Regions from separate parts of the Homo sapiens genome. Here regions 2 and 3 are each linked to region 1. Evidence: fine-mapped expression QTL. A gene starts in region 1. Each other region holds a variant in brackets. All regions are shown on one strand. Distances are from middle to middle.

Region 1 (5,398 bases):
CCACTTTGGACCCCCACAGTGCTGGGATTACAGGGGTAAGCCACCACACCCAACCTCAATCTTCTTGTGATCTGTTATGTTGACAACCAAGACAGCTACTTAGTGGTTGGTTGATGGGTGGACAGTGTATACAGCATGGACACACTGGACAGAGGCATGACTCAATGTTCCAGGTAGGACGGCAACAGATTTCATCACGCTACTCAGAACAGCACAACATTTAAGACATAAATTGTTTCTGGAGTTTTTCATTTAGTATTTTCAGATTTCAGGTGACTGCTGTAACTTGAAGCAAGAAAAGTGAAACTACAGAAAAGGGAGGACCACTGGACGGCTGCTTTCATTCTACGCCCACTTTTTAGAGTGCATTCCTACAATAAGCACCCTAATAATGTAAACCAGGGGCCAAGGGATGCACCTTCCACTCTACTTCCTTCCCCAGAAAAGACCACCTTGGTAAATACAGAATGGCAAACGGTTAAGTGAAACACTGTATAGCTTCTGGCCCTATACTTAGTATTTCTTAACATTTACACAGCATTTTCACATTTCCAAAGCAGAGTACCAACATTTATTAATCCTCACAACACCCCTGTGAGGTAGGTCAGTATGTCCTTTAGAGTCGAGAACTGAGGCAGAGGTCAAGCAAACCTGCCCTGGGCCACAGAGCAGCAGATGAAGGGCCTAGACCTGGATCCAGAAGCTAGGGCTCTCGGTCCAGCATTCATCCACTGGTGGACATCACATGGGCTTATTTTTACCAGCGAAGGTTACGTGAAGGACAAAACGCACTCAGCCAGCAACGGAAACTCAACAGTTCAAACAGCACTGGGGAACATGTCAGTTAAAGAGACGAAACGCTGACCAGCTCATGAATGAGGCAAGACAACATGCGGCTGAGGAAGTGTGGAATCATCACGACTGGGGATTAGACCAAGAACGGGCGCTCAGGAGGGTTCAGGAAAATGTAAACAAACTAGGAACCCATCCAAGGGGTGACAGGCCCAAATGCCTACGGTCTCCAAATGGTAGAAAAATTAGAAAAAGATAGTGGAAAAATCCAACCACGCAACCTTAACTTTAAACTAGGAATGACAATAATGTGTCTAATGTTCATTCACACTAGAAAGGCCGATAATGTTTGTAATATAACTACTGGCGATAGTATCCTATTTGTATGCCAACTTTCATCTCAAGTATTCTGCTTTTCTTTCCCCACAGACAAACAAGTGTTGTTCTTTACAGCAGACCTCTTTCCCTCTACATACCAATCTATCCACTCGCATAACTACTAAGTGGCTCAATGGCCTATGTCTCATGCTTAATTGGCTGAGCTAGGCGCGGAATCCGGGAAACCACAACAGACTGTACTCTGCTCCTGTATTTCAGGAATAACTGTCACTAACCTGCTTCTGTCCGATTCCACCTTCTATGAAGTACACACAGAGGAGCAGTTCATTCTTTTGTAAAGGGATTGGTGGACTTTGTTCGAGATGCCATTTCAAAAGAAATGAGAAAAAAGAAAAACTAAGACCTGCACTGTAAAGCATAATACAGGAGTAGATTTATTACAGCTACTCCACATTTTAGAGAGTGCCACAGTGTCTCGGTAGGAGGCAGGAACCCGAGTTCCTGGTTCAGAAACAGGGTTAGAAACAGTCTCCCGATGGAGCTCAAGTGGCTGTCATCTGCCTGTTCTCCTCAGGTATCGAGTGGGATCAGTTGAGGGCTGAGCAAAAGTGGGGACTGGGAAGATGACGAGAAAAGATAACTTTTCGTAGATTGTTGAGGCCGCAGTCAGACTGAGGAGTGAACAGTGTGAAGGAGAGGTTGAGAGCCTCATGGTGTGGAAGGCATAAGGGTTAGAGGCGAGGTTGGAGGGATGTGGGTGCTGGTGTCTGAGGACTTATTGGATTTCGGGCTGTGTGTCCCTCAGCGTCTAGATTCCTGCTTCGTAGGTGATGAGACGCTGCATGTAGCATGTTCACCTCAGAGACTGTCACTTATGAGGGTGCCCATCATTATTATTTTTGGTGACAAGGTAGCTGCTATTTTCCTGTAAGCAGAAGCTGCGGAAGAAAATGGTGGGATTGGCCGGGAGCGGTGGCTCACGCCTGTAATCCCAGCATTTTGGAAGGTCGAGGTGGGCGGATCACCTGAGGTCCGGAGTTCGAGACCAGCCTCAACATGGAGAAACCCCCGTCTCTACTAAAAATACAAAATTAGCCGGGCGTGGTGGTGTATGCCTGTAATCCCAGCTACTCGGGAGGCTGCGGTAGGAGAATTGCTTGAACCTGGGAGGCGGAGGTTGCGGTGAGCCGAGATCGCGCCATTGCACTCCAGCCTGGGCAACAAGAGCGAAACTCCGTCTCCAAAAAACAAAACAAAACAAAAATGGTGGGATTAAGACCCGCCCCCGTCCCGTCCCCGCCCCTTTTCGCTCCTGCTCCGCCCCTTCCCCGCCTTCTACCTGCCTCCCTCGGTGCTGTCGGTCTGCGCGGGCGCGCAAGGGGGACTGGGACGTTCAGGCGGAAGTGGCGTCAGGGGCGCTTTAGGGACTGGACTTGCAGTGTAAACAGAGACGCTGCAAATTGCTTGTGGACGGTGTAGGCCGCTGCAGGCCACCATGAACCGGCTTCCGGATGACTACGACCCCTACGCGGTTGAAGAGCCTAGCGACGAGGAGCCGGCTTTGAGCAGGTGGGCTCCCGCCCCACCCTGGCCCCCGAGGATTTGGGTCGAGGCCTGGCTTTGGTCGCCTCCATTCGTTGCGCCTGCCGAGCCTACGCAGACCCTAGCGGCTCGGGAGCCTGTCGTGCCTGTTACTTGTGCGAAGCCAAAGGGCTTTCCTGATGGGGTCGCGCAGTCCCGGGGGGAGGCGGTGCCGATGTCGCCTGTAGGAAGAGGGATATTCCGGAATCACGGGGGACCGCGTGTAAATCTTCAAAAGCAATGAGATCGAAACCTGTCTCTACACCTTAGTAGCAGAGTGACGGAAGGCAAGTCAGTTATCCTCGATTACTCACCTGTAAAATTGAACTATAATAACATAATTGTATAACCTATATAACATAGTATAACACACTATGTTTGTTGTGAGGCTCACAGGACTTAATGTGAAGTGTCCATCTTGAAGACTAAACTGCCATAAACAGAAATAAGGGAATATTGAACAGCCTTTTTTATTTTTATTTTTTGACAGGGACTGTTGTATGCTCGCTCTGAGCTACAGAGATAAATCATAAGGTCCTTGTCTTCCAGAGGCTTATAGTATAATAAGGGTAATAAGATAAAGTATATATTTCTTGGCAGAGCATTGTAGAGAATATTGACCTGAGATAGGCACAGAAGAAGGTTCGTGGGATTTCCAGAAGGGTGGGCTTTATTCTACCAGGGAAACTTGAAGCTGTTTTGCCGAGATATTTCCACACAAATTTAGTTATTTCTTAAGCTGTCAGCAGATCCTATTCTTAAACTTTAAAACATTCATTCTGCCTAAAGAAGCTTTCTGTAAAGCCATGCTTTCATTAACAACTTTGGCTGGGTGTGGTGGCCCATGCCTGTAATCCCAGGACTTTGGGAGTCTGAGGCGAGAGAATCTCTTAAGCCTGGTAGTAAAGGAACAGCCTGGGCAACATAGTGAGACCTCATTTCTTAAAAAAAAAAAAAATCAAAAGAACAATGTTTCCTCATATTGTCATGGGGAGACATTGGATGCATGGGAAATCAGACTGCTGTTAAGATTTCTTTTGTTGGGAGTGAGGATAGATACCAGGATTCCCTGTGAAAAAGAGTTTCAGTTAATGGGTCCTGTCTGTGAAAGGAGGTATGTATATATGTATGTCTCAATTATTTATTTATTTATTTATTTATTTTGAGACAGAGTCTCACTCTGTCAGCCAGGCTGGAGTGCACTGGTGCAATCTTGGCTCACTGTAGCCTCCACCTCCTGGGTTCCAGCAATTCTCCTGCCTCAGCCTCCTGGGTAGCTGGGATTACAGGCATGCGCTACCACACCTGGCTTATTTTTTGTATTTTTCGTAGAGATGGGTTTTCACCACGTTGGCCAGGCTGGTCTTGAACTCCTGACCTTAGGCAATCTGCCTGCGTCGGGCTCCCAAAGTGCTAGGATTACAGGCCTGAGCCACGGAGCCAGGACTGTTGTATCATTTTTTTAAGGAAGCTTTATAATTCTGTGACAGTTGCCACTGGTAAGGTAACTGTAAAGATAAATATTATAAAAACAAAACAATGTTATCAGACAGTATTGCCTGTTGTAGGCTCTGAGCCAAATGGTTATTATTTTAAAAAGGGAGATTAGTGTTAGAGAGGTGTCTGTCAGTATTTAATTTTACACTGTTTATAAACTAATACATTGTAGCCTGTTAACTGTTTCACGGTAGCTGACCGAAGACATGAGACTCCTGGGTCAAAGATAAGACTACACATAGCACAGCAAGCAGCATGAGCATCATGTTTGTGTGGCTTGCTCTTGCTTGTCAACCCTACAGGTATTACGCTGAGGGTCCTAGAAGAATGCTGCACATTCAGTGGGTTGGCATCGTGGCTAAAGACTACTTGAGCTTGGAGAATCCACCTCTTTCATAGAAGACAGTAAATACATCTGCTCTTTGTCCTGGAAGGAGACATTATCTCATTCCTCAAGGTTGTTGTTCGCTGCAAACACAATCCTGAGAAATGGCTGGAGTGAACAGTGGTCAGAACCTTGCATTCTTGGCATACTTAACTTGCATATCTAGGGTCCATGATGTATGACTGCCTTTCTCAGCAGTGCTGAAAACTGAGACTTTGGTTGAGATAATGACAAGGATTGAAGAAAATTTGTAGAAAAAATAGCTCTCACTTTGTGATTCAGTTTTTAAAAATTAAACATTTTATTTTGAAGTTTTCGTAGATTCACATTCAGTTATAAGAAATAATACAGGTCTGGTGCAGTGGCTCACATCTGTAATCCCAGCACTTTGGAAGGCCAAGGCAGGAGAATCACTTGAGCTCAAGAGTTCAAGACCAGCCTGAGCAACATGATGAAATCATGTCTTTACTGAAAATACAAAAAATTAGCTGGTATGGTGGTGCATATCTGTGGTCCCAGCTACTCAGGAGGGTGAGGCGGTTGGTTGGCTTGAGCCTGGGAGGCGGAAGTTTCAGTGAGCCAAGATGGCACCATTGCACTCCAGCCTGGGCAACACAGGGAGACCCCCATCTCAAAAAATAAAAAATAATAAAAAAAAAAGAAATAATACAGAGAGATCCTGTGTACTCTTTCCCCAGTTTCCTCCAGTGTTAACATACTACAAAACTATAGTGCAGTATCACAACCAGGATATCTATCTATCTATATATCTATCTATGTATTTTTTGAGACGGATTCTGAATC
Region 2 (5,000 bases), 86 kb before region 1:
TCTCTACTAAAAATACAAAAATTAGCTGGGCATGGTGGCGCATGCCTGTAATTCCAGTTACTTCAGAGGCTGAGGCAGGAGAATCACTGGATTCATTCACTGGAACCTGGGAGGTGGAGGTTGCAGTGAGCTGAGATTGCACCATTGCACTCCAGCCTGGGCAACAAGAGCAAAACTCCATCTCAAAAAAAGAAAAAAAAGAAAAAACAATTTTTTTTTTTTTTGAAACGGAGTCTCGCTCTTTCGCCCAGGCCGAAGGCCCGACTGCAGTGGTGCTATCTTGGCTCACTGCAAGCTCCGCCTCCCGGATTCACGCCATTGTCCTGCCTCAGCCTCCTGAGTAGCTGGGACTACAGGCGCCCGCCACCGCACCTGGCTAATTTTTTTGTATTTTTAGTAGAGACGGGGTTTCACCGTGTTAGCCAGGATGGTCTCGATCTCCTGACCTCGTGATCCGCCCGCCTCTGCCTCCCAAAGTGCTGGGATTACAGGCGTGAGCCACCGCGCCTGGCCAACAATTTTTTTTTAAACTTAGGCAAGCTTGGTGGTATATACCTGTAGTCCTAGCTATTTGAGAGGCTGAGAGCTTGAGAACAATGAGCTATGGCTTGAGAGAGCCAGGGTGACAGAGTGAGGTCCTGTCTCTAAAAAAATTTTTAAAATTGTATTTCGGGTTTTAAAATAGCGGAAACTAGCAGAGTTACTTAATGAAGTATGAGGAGTTGATTATAGCACAATTAAACTAATTATTCTAAATATAAAGCATATGACCTTTAGATAACTTTATGTCCTATTTTTGGTGTCTACTAGCACAAGCAAACAGGATTTGCTTTCTTGGAGGATCTTAATAATGTTCAGTAAAAATACTAATTTTTGAGTATGTTGATGTTGTGAAAAGTATTTTTTGGTGAATATTTGTGTTCATGGCTTTATGCCTTCAGAAAGATTTGCTCATGAAACTGGAAGCCCTTAAGTAATTTGTCCAGAAACTTTCTCTTTTTTTTTTTTTGAAATGGAGTCTCGCTCTGTTGCCCAGGCTGGAGTGCAGTGGCGTGATCTCAGCTCGCTGCAAGCTCTGCCTCCTGGGTTCATGCTATGCCATTCTCCTGCCTTAGCCTCCTGAGTAGCTGGGACTACAGGAGTGCGCGACCGTGCCCGGCTAATTTTTTGCATTTTTTTTTTTTTTTAGTAGAGGCGGGGTTTCACCTTGTTAGCCAGGATGGTCTAGATCTCCTGACGTTGTGATCTGCCTGCCTCGGCCTCCCAAAGTGCTGGAATTACAGGCGTGAGCCACCGTGCCTGGCCCCAGAGACTTTTTCATGTATTACAAAATTAAAGGGAGAGGAAGACAAAAGAGCACTCCTGACTGTGATGTTCTTATAGAATCCTGTAGATGAAAATTTTAATATGGAAATGGAAAAAAACCTGAATTAGAATGCTTTTAGAACATCAGGATGGATATATACACTTACCCAGTTCTTCCTTATTTTTGTCCCGTGGAACTGGGTGAATCATAATAATTATAAAATTATAGGTGGGCACAGCATAATCATTGTTTCATTATATTTATATTTCATTATATTTCATCATCCCTCTAAAGCCTTTAGTATCCCCCTTTTTCTAATGAGAAATCCGAACTTCAGAGAAACTAAGTTAGTAGTCTGAGGTCACACAGCAACAAATGGGAGAGCTGGACTTTAAAACACATTTCTGATATCAGAGCCACTGCACAGGTTTCTCAAAGTGGCCTTGAAATACTTGCATTAGAATTACCTGGTGCATTTGAAAATCAAAATGAAAGTTTCTGGGTGTCACCTCCTCACTAAATCAGAATCTCTTAGGGTAGGGAATACACAGTATTGAAAACTGTTGGTCACACTTTGATCTCTTCAGCCCCACCTCTACATATGGGCAGATAACTGCATTTTTTTTTTAAATTTTTTTTGAGACAGGGTCTCGCTCTGTTGCCCACGCTGGGGTGCAGTGGCAATCTTGGCTCACTGCAACCTCCACCTCCCGGGTTAAGGTGATTCTCCTGTCTCAGCCTCCTGAGTAGCTGG[G/A]ATTATAGGTGCCCGCCACCAGGCCTGGCTAATTTTTTTGTATTTTTAGTAGAGACAGGGTTACACCATGTTGGCCAGGCTGGTCTCAAACTCCTGACCACAGGGGATCTGCCCGCCTCGGCCTCCCAAAGTGCTGGGATTACAGGTGTGAGCCACCGCGCCCGGCCGATAACTGCTTTTTTGACCAGCACCCAAGGAGTTTCTGTTTGTGCACTGAAATTTGATTACTGCTGCAGAAAGTTATCCTGCTATTTCCTCATTTTAGGAATAGAAATATCTGGCCTGTTTAAATTTCCTTACATTGTGTTTGTCCTGATAGAAATAGATTACCATAATTAGAACTTTTAGGCATTGCATTTTTAGTTTAGATCATCTTGTTGAGCCTTTTAAGAAAGGGAGTCTTGGCTGGTCACAGTGGCTCACTCCTATAATCCCAACACTTTGGGAGGCAGAGGTGGGTGGATCACGAGGTCGGGAGTTCGAGACCAGCCTGACCAACATAGTGAAACCCTGTCCCTGCTAAAAATACAGAAAATTAGCTGGGCATGGTGGCGGGCACCTGTAATCCCACCTACTCGGGAGGCTGAGGCGGGAGAATCACTGGAACCCAGGAGGCGGAGGTTGCAGTGAGCTGAGAGCGTGCCATTGCACTCCAGCCTGGGCAACAGTGCGAGACTCTGTCTCGAAAAGAAAGGGGAATTTTGACAGAAAAAGCATGAAGTACATATTGATACAAGTTGCAAAGGGGACAGCACATTCAAAAATAATAACTAGCATTTCATGTAAAGCAGCAAGTAAGCAAAAAAAATTTTTTTTTTTTTCCTAGACGGAGTCTTGCTCTGTCGCTAGGCTGGAGTGCAGTGGTGCGACCTTGACTCACTGCAACCTCTGGCTCCCAAGTTCAAGCTATTCTCCTGCCTCAGCCTCCTGAGTAGCTGGGACTACAGGTGCACGCCACCACGCCCAGCTAATTTTTGTATTTTTAGTAGAGACGAGGTTTCACCATGTTGGCCAGGATGGTCTTGATCTCTTGACTTCATGATCCACCCTCCTCAGCCTCCCAAAGTGCTGGGATTACAGGTGTGAGCCACAGCGTCCAGCTACAAGTAAGCAAAATTAAAGTCAGTGTTTTAAAATAAATCTTTAAGCAGCTGTACATTTTCATCATGATATTTCGATTAGAACAGAATCTTAGTGCCCTAAGAAAACATTGTTTTGGCCAGGCGCAGTGTCTCATGCATGTAATCCCAGCACTTTGCGAGGCCGAGATGGGCAGATCACCTGAGGTCAGGAGTTAAAGACCTGCCTGGCCCACATGGTGAAACCCCATCTCTACTAAAAATACAAAAATTAGCCGGGCGTGATGGCTGGTGCCTGTAATCCCAGCTACTTGGGAGGCTGAGGCAGGAAAATCACTTGAACCCAGGAGGCAGAGGTTGCAGTGAGCCGAGACTGTGCCATTGCACTCCAGCCTGGGCGACAAGAGCGAAACTGTCTCAAAAAAAAAGGAAAATATTGTTTTGTGAGAAATTTAAAAAGCAGGCTTCAAGAATACATAGTGTTGAAAAATATTGGCCACATTTTCATCTCTTTAGCCCTACCTCTATATAATAGGTTTTTCCTCCCCCAAATAAAGGACAGTAACATATTATTTAGTACACAAATGAGCCCTTTGAATTGGACACATTTTTTTTCTGATGTGCTTGTTAAATAAGAACAGTGCATGCCAGAGTGATGGCATGATTCTCTTTGCACTTGATTTCAGTTCTAAATAATATGTTTATTGTTTTCAAGAATTACTTTAGGTGGAGTAACTACTTGTTCTCCTGTACTCGTAGCCTTGCTCCTACCTTTGTATTCCTTATCTTCATTAATAGCATCACTTTCCAGTTGTGCCGGCAAGAAACCTCTGAGTCATATCCTTCATCTTTATATCAGAACAGTCATTGAGGCCAGTTAATTTCACCTTGGAAATGTTGTTTATCCCATCTTTCATGTGCTTGGTTCCATTTAAGCTCCTTGCTTCTTCCTGCTTGGATAGTAGCAGTACCTCTCCTTAGTCTCTGTCTTTAGTCTTTCTACTTTCCAATTCAGTCGTCAAATTACTTATATTACTAAAATGATTAAACCATATAGCACGTTAGTGAAAAGGACTTCCTTGGACCCCTTTTTTTGGGGGGTAAGGTCCAAACTCCTTAGGCTAACATTCAACTCTGTTCATAACCTTTTCTGACTGGCTTCATTTCTCAATATCCCCTCCCCCATATTCTAGTCTACTCCCCATTGCCCAAGTACGTCTACACTTGACTGTCTGTTTTATGCATGCATTTCAGTGTTTTTTTTCCCCCTCACCTTTTCTTTCGCTTCAAATTCAACTTGAATTTGGCCCAGATGCTTGCATTTTGTTTTGCACCTGCACACTTTTTAGCTTAAACACATGCCACATTTATTGATAGTTACTTCACATAAAAATGTGACATATATTATGTTGGCTGAGGATTAAAAAGATCAATAAGACAAAGTTCCTGCCCTGAGACCATCACAGTGTAGTGAAGGAGATAGAGTTATAATCCCTTGCAATGAAGTGTATGGGAGTACAAAGTAAAAGTGTTCAACTTTAGGGGAAGGGGTAGTAGTAAAGACATAATGATAGTTACACACTTACATGCATTCACTGCATGTCAGGGACTTTCCATATAAACTCAATTCTCAAATCCCTATGAAATACACCTACTGTTATTCCTATTTGGGAAAGGAAAACTGAGTTGCAGAGACATTAAATAACTTGCCCAAGGTCATACAGCCGGTAGGAGCTGTGGTCAAATAGGCAATCTAGCTCTAGGGCCTGGCTCTTAACCACTGTGCTATTGGTCTGCTTTCCAACAGGGAGGATGGCATGTGTTGGTAATTTGGTTCCTCCTAGAGCACTTGTTCTTACTG
Region 3 (5,000 bases), 53 kb before region 1:
CCAAGATTGTGCCATTGCACTCCAGCTTGGGCGAAAGAGAGAGAGGGAACTGTTACATATTATGAATTATGAATTTTATTTTAATATTTATTTTTTATTTTATTTTGCATTTTGAGACAGGGTCTTGCTCTGTTGCCTTAGGCTGCTGTGCAGTGCCCCAATCTCGGCTCACTGCAACCTCTGCCTCCCAGGCTCAGGCGATCCTCCCACTTCAACCTCCCAAGTAGCTGGAACTATAGGTACGTGCCATCACACCCAGCTAATTTTTGTATTTTTTGTAGAGACAGAGTTTTGCCATGTTGCCCAGGCTGAACTCCTGGGCTCAAGTGATCTGCCCACCTCGGCCTCCCCAAAGTGCTGGGATTACAGGTGTGAGCCACTGTATCCAGCTGAATTACAGATTTCAGTCACATTTTGTCAGTACTGACTCTTGCTGCTTGTGTTCTGTTGATATGGGTCTCCAATTATATCCTGTCAGCAGATGCTTTTTCATTTAATGATTGGTAATGTAGAAGGGGGTAAAATACTATTAATTTTATTTTTGTGCCAGGTGCAGTGGCTCACTCCTGTAATCCTAACACTTTGGGAGGCTGAGGCAGGTGGGTCACTTGAACTCAGGAGTTTAAGACCAGCCTGGGCAACATGACAACATGACAAAACCCTGTCTCTATAAAAAATACAAAAATTAGCTTGGCGTTGTGGCATGCGCCTGTAGTCCCAGCTACTTGGGATGCTGAATCAGGAGGATTGCTTGAGCCAGGGAGGTTGAGGCTGCAGTGAGCCATGTTTGCACCACTGCAGTCCAGCCTGGATTACAAAGCAAGACTCTGTCTGAAGATAATAATAATAATTTTTATTTTTAATGTATATCTAGCTTTGTTTCAAAAAAAAAAAAAAGGTTGAAGACAGTGGTTAATCACATTGTTGCTCTCAGATAGTTTGGTCAGGTTCCTCAGTGCAGTCAGAAAGGGCCTTAATGACTAAGGCTAGGCAGCCTTCAGGAATGGCCAGTAGAATGTATAACAGGCCAAGAAAAATAGATTTTCACTTCTGTCCACCAGAACTGTTTTCTTTTTCCTTAAAAGGAATTGATCACTTCTGCTGGCAATAATATGTTTATTGAAGAGCAAAATTGTAGAGGCAGATCACAAATAAGAACATGTTTCAGAGTACAATATGTGAGGCCAAGTGCGGTGGCTCATGCCTGTAATCCCAGCACTTTAGCACGTTGGGAGGCCGAGGCGCGCGGATCACTTGAGGTCAGAAACTTGAGACCAGCCTGGCCAACATGGCGAAACCCTGTCTCTACTAAAAAAATACAAAAATTAGGCTGGGCGTGGTGGGTCACATCTGTAATTCCAGCACTTTGGGAGGCCGAGGTGGGCGGATCATGAGGTGAGGAGTTCGAGACCAGCATGACCAATGTGGTGAAACCCTGTCTCTACTAAAAATACAAAAAAAAAAAAATTAGCTGGGCGTGGTGGCGCTTGCCTGTAGTCTCAGCTACTCAGGAGGCTGAGGCAGGAGAATCACTTGAACCCAGGAGGCTGAGGTTGCAGTGAGCCAAGATCGCGCCACTGCACTCCAGCCTGGTGACAGAGCGAGACTTTGCCTAAAAAAAAAAAAAAAAAGAAAAGAAATTAGCTGGGTGTGGTGGTGTGCACCTGTAGTCCCAGCTATTGGGACGCTGAGGCAGGAGAATCGCTTGAACCCGGGAGGCAGAGGTTGCAGTGAACCAAGATCACGCCACTGCACTCCAGCCTAGGTGACAGAGTGAGACTCCATCTCAAAAAAAAAAAAAGAGTACAGCACGTGAACTTGGACCTATATGGGGAGCACTAAGCCTTCAGTTGCAAAGTCATAGAAGATTTCTTACTTGATAGATAGAAATGCATGTCTATTAAAGTCTTGTTGGTGAAATTAGTATAATAACATCTGACTGAGGATAGGTATGCTATTTTACTGATGATCTTTTATATTTATAATGATAGTTATTTACATATAAAACTAAAGCAAATAAGTGAAAAAAGTTTATATTTTCTTTTGATCTTATAGGATGTAGATGATTTCTTTGAGCACGAACGAACATTTCTTTTGGA[G/A]TATCATAACCGAGTTAAGGATGCATCTGCTAAATCTGATAGAATGACAAGATCCCACAAAAGTAAGATTTTTCTGTGGCTAAAGCTTATATCTTTTAATGGAATAATTATAAAGTTCATATTATAGTTTGAAAAAGTCTTAATATAGAGCAGTAGTTCTCAAACTGGTCTGTTGGAGCCTAGGCTCCATGGCCCTTTTATAGTGAGCCTGTGAGGTCAAAACTATTTTCAGCTGGGCACAGTGGCTCACGCCTGTGATCACGACACTTTTGGAGGCTGAAGCGGGAATATCACTTGAGCCCAGGAATTCAAGACCAGCCTGAGCAACAGAGTAAGATCCTGTTTGTATTGCACCAGCCTGATATAAAAAATAAAATTAGCCAGACGTGGTGCCGCATGGCTGTGGTCCCAGCTACTAGGAAAGCTAAGGTGGGAGGATGCCTTGGGCCTGGGAGGTTGAGGCTGCAGTGAGCTGTGATGGATCGTACCACCATACTTCAGTCTGGGTGACAGAGTGAGACTGTCTAGACAGCAACAAAACAACAACTATTTTTATAATGATACTGTGATAGTTTTTGCCTTTTTCACCATGTTGACATTTACACCGATGATGGATAAAGTTGCTGCTGCGTAATTACATACAAATCAAGTCAGTGGCAACAAACTGGACGAGTAGTCTCTATATTCTTTCCGGCCATGCACTTGCTCTTTTTTTTTTCTTTGAGACAGAGTCTCTATCGCCCAGGCTGGAGTGCAGCGGTGCAATCTCAGCTCACTGCAACAACCTCAGCCGCCCAAGTTCAAGCAGTTCTCCTGCCTCAGCCTCCCAAGTAGCTGGGATTACAGGCACCTGCCACCGCGCCTGGCTAATTTTTGTATTTTTAGTAGAGATGGGGTTTCACAGTCTTGGCCAGGATGGTCTTGAACTCCTGACCTCATGATCCACCCGCCTTGGCCTTCCAAAGTGCAGGGATTACAGGCGTGAGCCACCGCACCTGGCCACTTGCAATTTTTAAGACATGTGACTTTCACTTAAGAATGCCCTTGATGAAACAGTAAAAATTGATTGTAATCTCTACCCTTGGGTATACATTTTTAAATATTCTGAGTGATGAAATAGGAGGTATGCATAAAGCACTTTGGCTACATACTCAAGTATGATGGTTCTCTAGAAAAGCATTTTAGTGATAGAGTTGTGATTGAACTAGCTAATTTTTTCGTAGAACACTACTTTTACTTTAGAGAATGACTGATAAACTGTTTATGAATATTTGGCAAATGTTTTCTCAAAAATCAACTAATTATTTAAATTAGAGGAACCTGGCCAAAAATCCATCAGTTATTTCAAGGAAAACAAAGGTAGTATTTGTTGCCAATGATAAGTCAAGCTTCAAGCAATAATTCGAATTTTGGAAAACTTTATCTCTCTGACCATGAGCTTACTTCCCAATAGATACTGGACTGGTAGTCTGTATGTTCTTTCCTGCCATGCACTTGCAATTTTTTTTTTTGAGGCGGAGTCTCTGTTGCCCAGGCTGGAGTGCAATGGTACGATCTCGTCTCACTGCAGCCTCTGCCACTGCCATTGCCAGGTTCAAGCAATTCTCCTGCCTCAGCCTCCCAAGTAGCTGGGATTACAGGCGCCTGCCACCGTGCCCGGCTAGATAGACCAATAAAGACCCATATAGAGATTGATGATGATACTAGTGAATGTGATTTTTTAAAAAATTGTACATTGAATTGTGTCACCACTTAGAACATCTGCATAATTCATTGGACCAATGTTTTCTAAACGGCCAAGTGCATAATGCTACAAAATCATATATGTAAAAGAACCACTCAAAGTGCAAAATAGACCAGTGAGGGTTTTTTTTTTAACAGCTTTGTTGAGTGTAATTGATATCAGTAAGCTGCAGTAATCAAAGTGTACAATTTGGTAAGTTTTGGCATGTGTGAAATCCTTACCACAATCAAAATAATGAACACACACATCACCCCCAAAGTTTTCTTGTGGCCCTTTGAAATCTCTCCCTCCTGCCCTATCCCCAGGCAGCCACTGATCTGCTTTCTGTCACTATAGATTAGTTTGTATTTTTTAGTATTTTATATAAATTGAATCATACAGTATGTATTCTTTATTGTCTGGCTTTGAAACTCAAAAAACTATTTTGAGATTCATCCAAGTTGTTGTGTATATCGATAGTTCATTTCTTTTTGTTGCTAAGTAGTGTTCCATTGAATGGATATACAACAATTATTTATTTCTAGCTTTGGCTATTACAGATACAATTTATGTGAGCCATTTCTATATAACTTTTTGTACGGACATGCTTTCTTTCTCTTGGGTAATACCTAGAAGTAGAATGCCTGAGTCATGTGGTAAATGAATATTTAACTTTTTAAGAAACTACCAATTTTTTTTTCCACAATGGTTGTACCATTTTGCATTCCCACGAGCAGGGCATGAGAGTTCCAGTTGCTCCACATCTTTGCCAACAAGGATAGTCAGTCTTTTTTTTTTCCCCAGTGGAATTTGAAGTCTTTTTAACTTTATTCAAGTAGGTCAGTGGTGGTAACTCAGTGTGGTTTAGATTTGTATTGTCCTAATGACTGTTGAGGTTCAACATCTTTTCTTGTGTCCTTCTTCCTTCAGCTTTATTCTTTTTTTTTTTTTTTGAGACGAAGTCTTGCTCTGTCGCCCAGGCTGCTGGAGTGCAGTGGCGGAATCTTGGCTCACTGCAAGCTCCACCTCCTGGGTTTACGCCATTCTCCTGCCTCAGCCTCCCGAGAACCTGGGACTACAGGTGCCCGCCACCACGCCCGGCTAATTTTTTGTATTTTTAGTAGTGACAGGGTTTCACTGTGTTAGCCAGGATGGTTTCAATCTCCTCACCTCGTAAT

The links. PIP is the estimated chance that this variant, and not a neighbour inherited with it, causes the effect.
Region 2: its variant is the best candidate, but not a certain one, in a credible set for the expression of EAPP in whole blood (TOPMed, PIP 0.60).
Region 3: its variant is the best candidate, but not a certain one, in a credible set for the expression of EAPP in whole blood (INTERVAL, PIP 0.86).

Annotation. Positions count from the first base shown.
Region 1 is chr14:34,536,857-34,542,254 of GRCh38, reverse strand. EAPP (E2F associated phosphoprotein) reads left to right here and starts at 2,554. Exons shown (of 6, transcript NM_018453.4): 1 at 2,554-2,700. The coding sequence starts at 2,627. LOC105370447 (a long non-coding RNA gene) reads right to left here and starts at 2,506. Exons shown (of 2, transcript XR_943739.1): 1 at 2,471-2,506; 2 at 549-2,069. It overlaps LOC112268123 (a long non-coding RNA gene), which reads left to right. Exons shown (of 2, transcript XR_002957583.1): 2 at 266-1,021. RefSeq lists silencers at 2,377-2,476, 4,418-4,712 and enhancers at 2,617-2,776, 2,427-3,351.
Region 2 is chr14:34,622,678-34,627,677 of GRCh38, reverse strand. All of the region lies in intron 2 of SNX6 (sorting nexin 6), which reads left to right. Among named protein-coding and RNA genes, the nearest start is that of SNX6, 5.0 kb to the left of the region's middle. RefSeq lists a silencer at 3,821-4,115. The variant G/A (reference allele first, on the strand shown) is at 2,061.
Region 3 is chr14:34,590,206-34,595,205 of GRCh38, reverse strand. It overlaps SNX6 (sorting nexin 6), which reads left to right. Exons shown (of 14, transcript NM_152233.4): 8 at 2,056-2,161. Among named protein-coding and RNA genes, the nearest start is that of SNX6, 37 kb to the left of the region's middle. The variant G/A (reference allele first, on the strand shown) is at 2,100.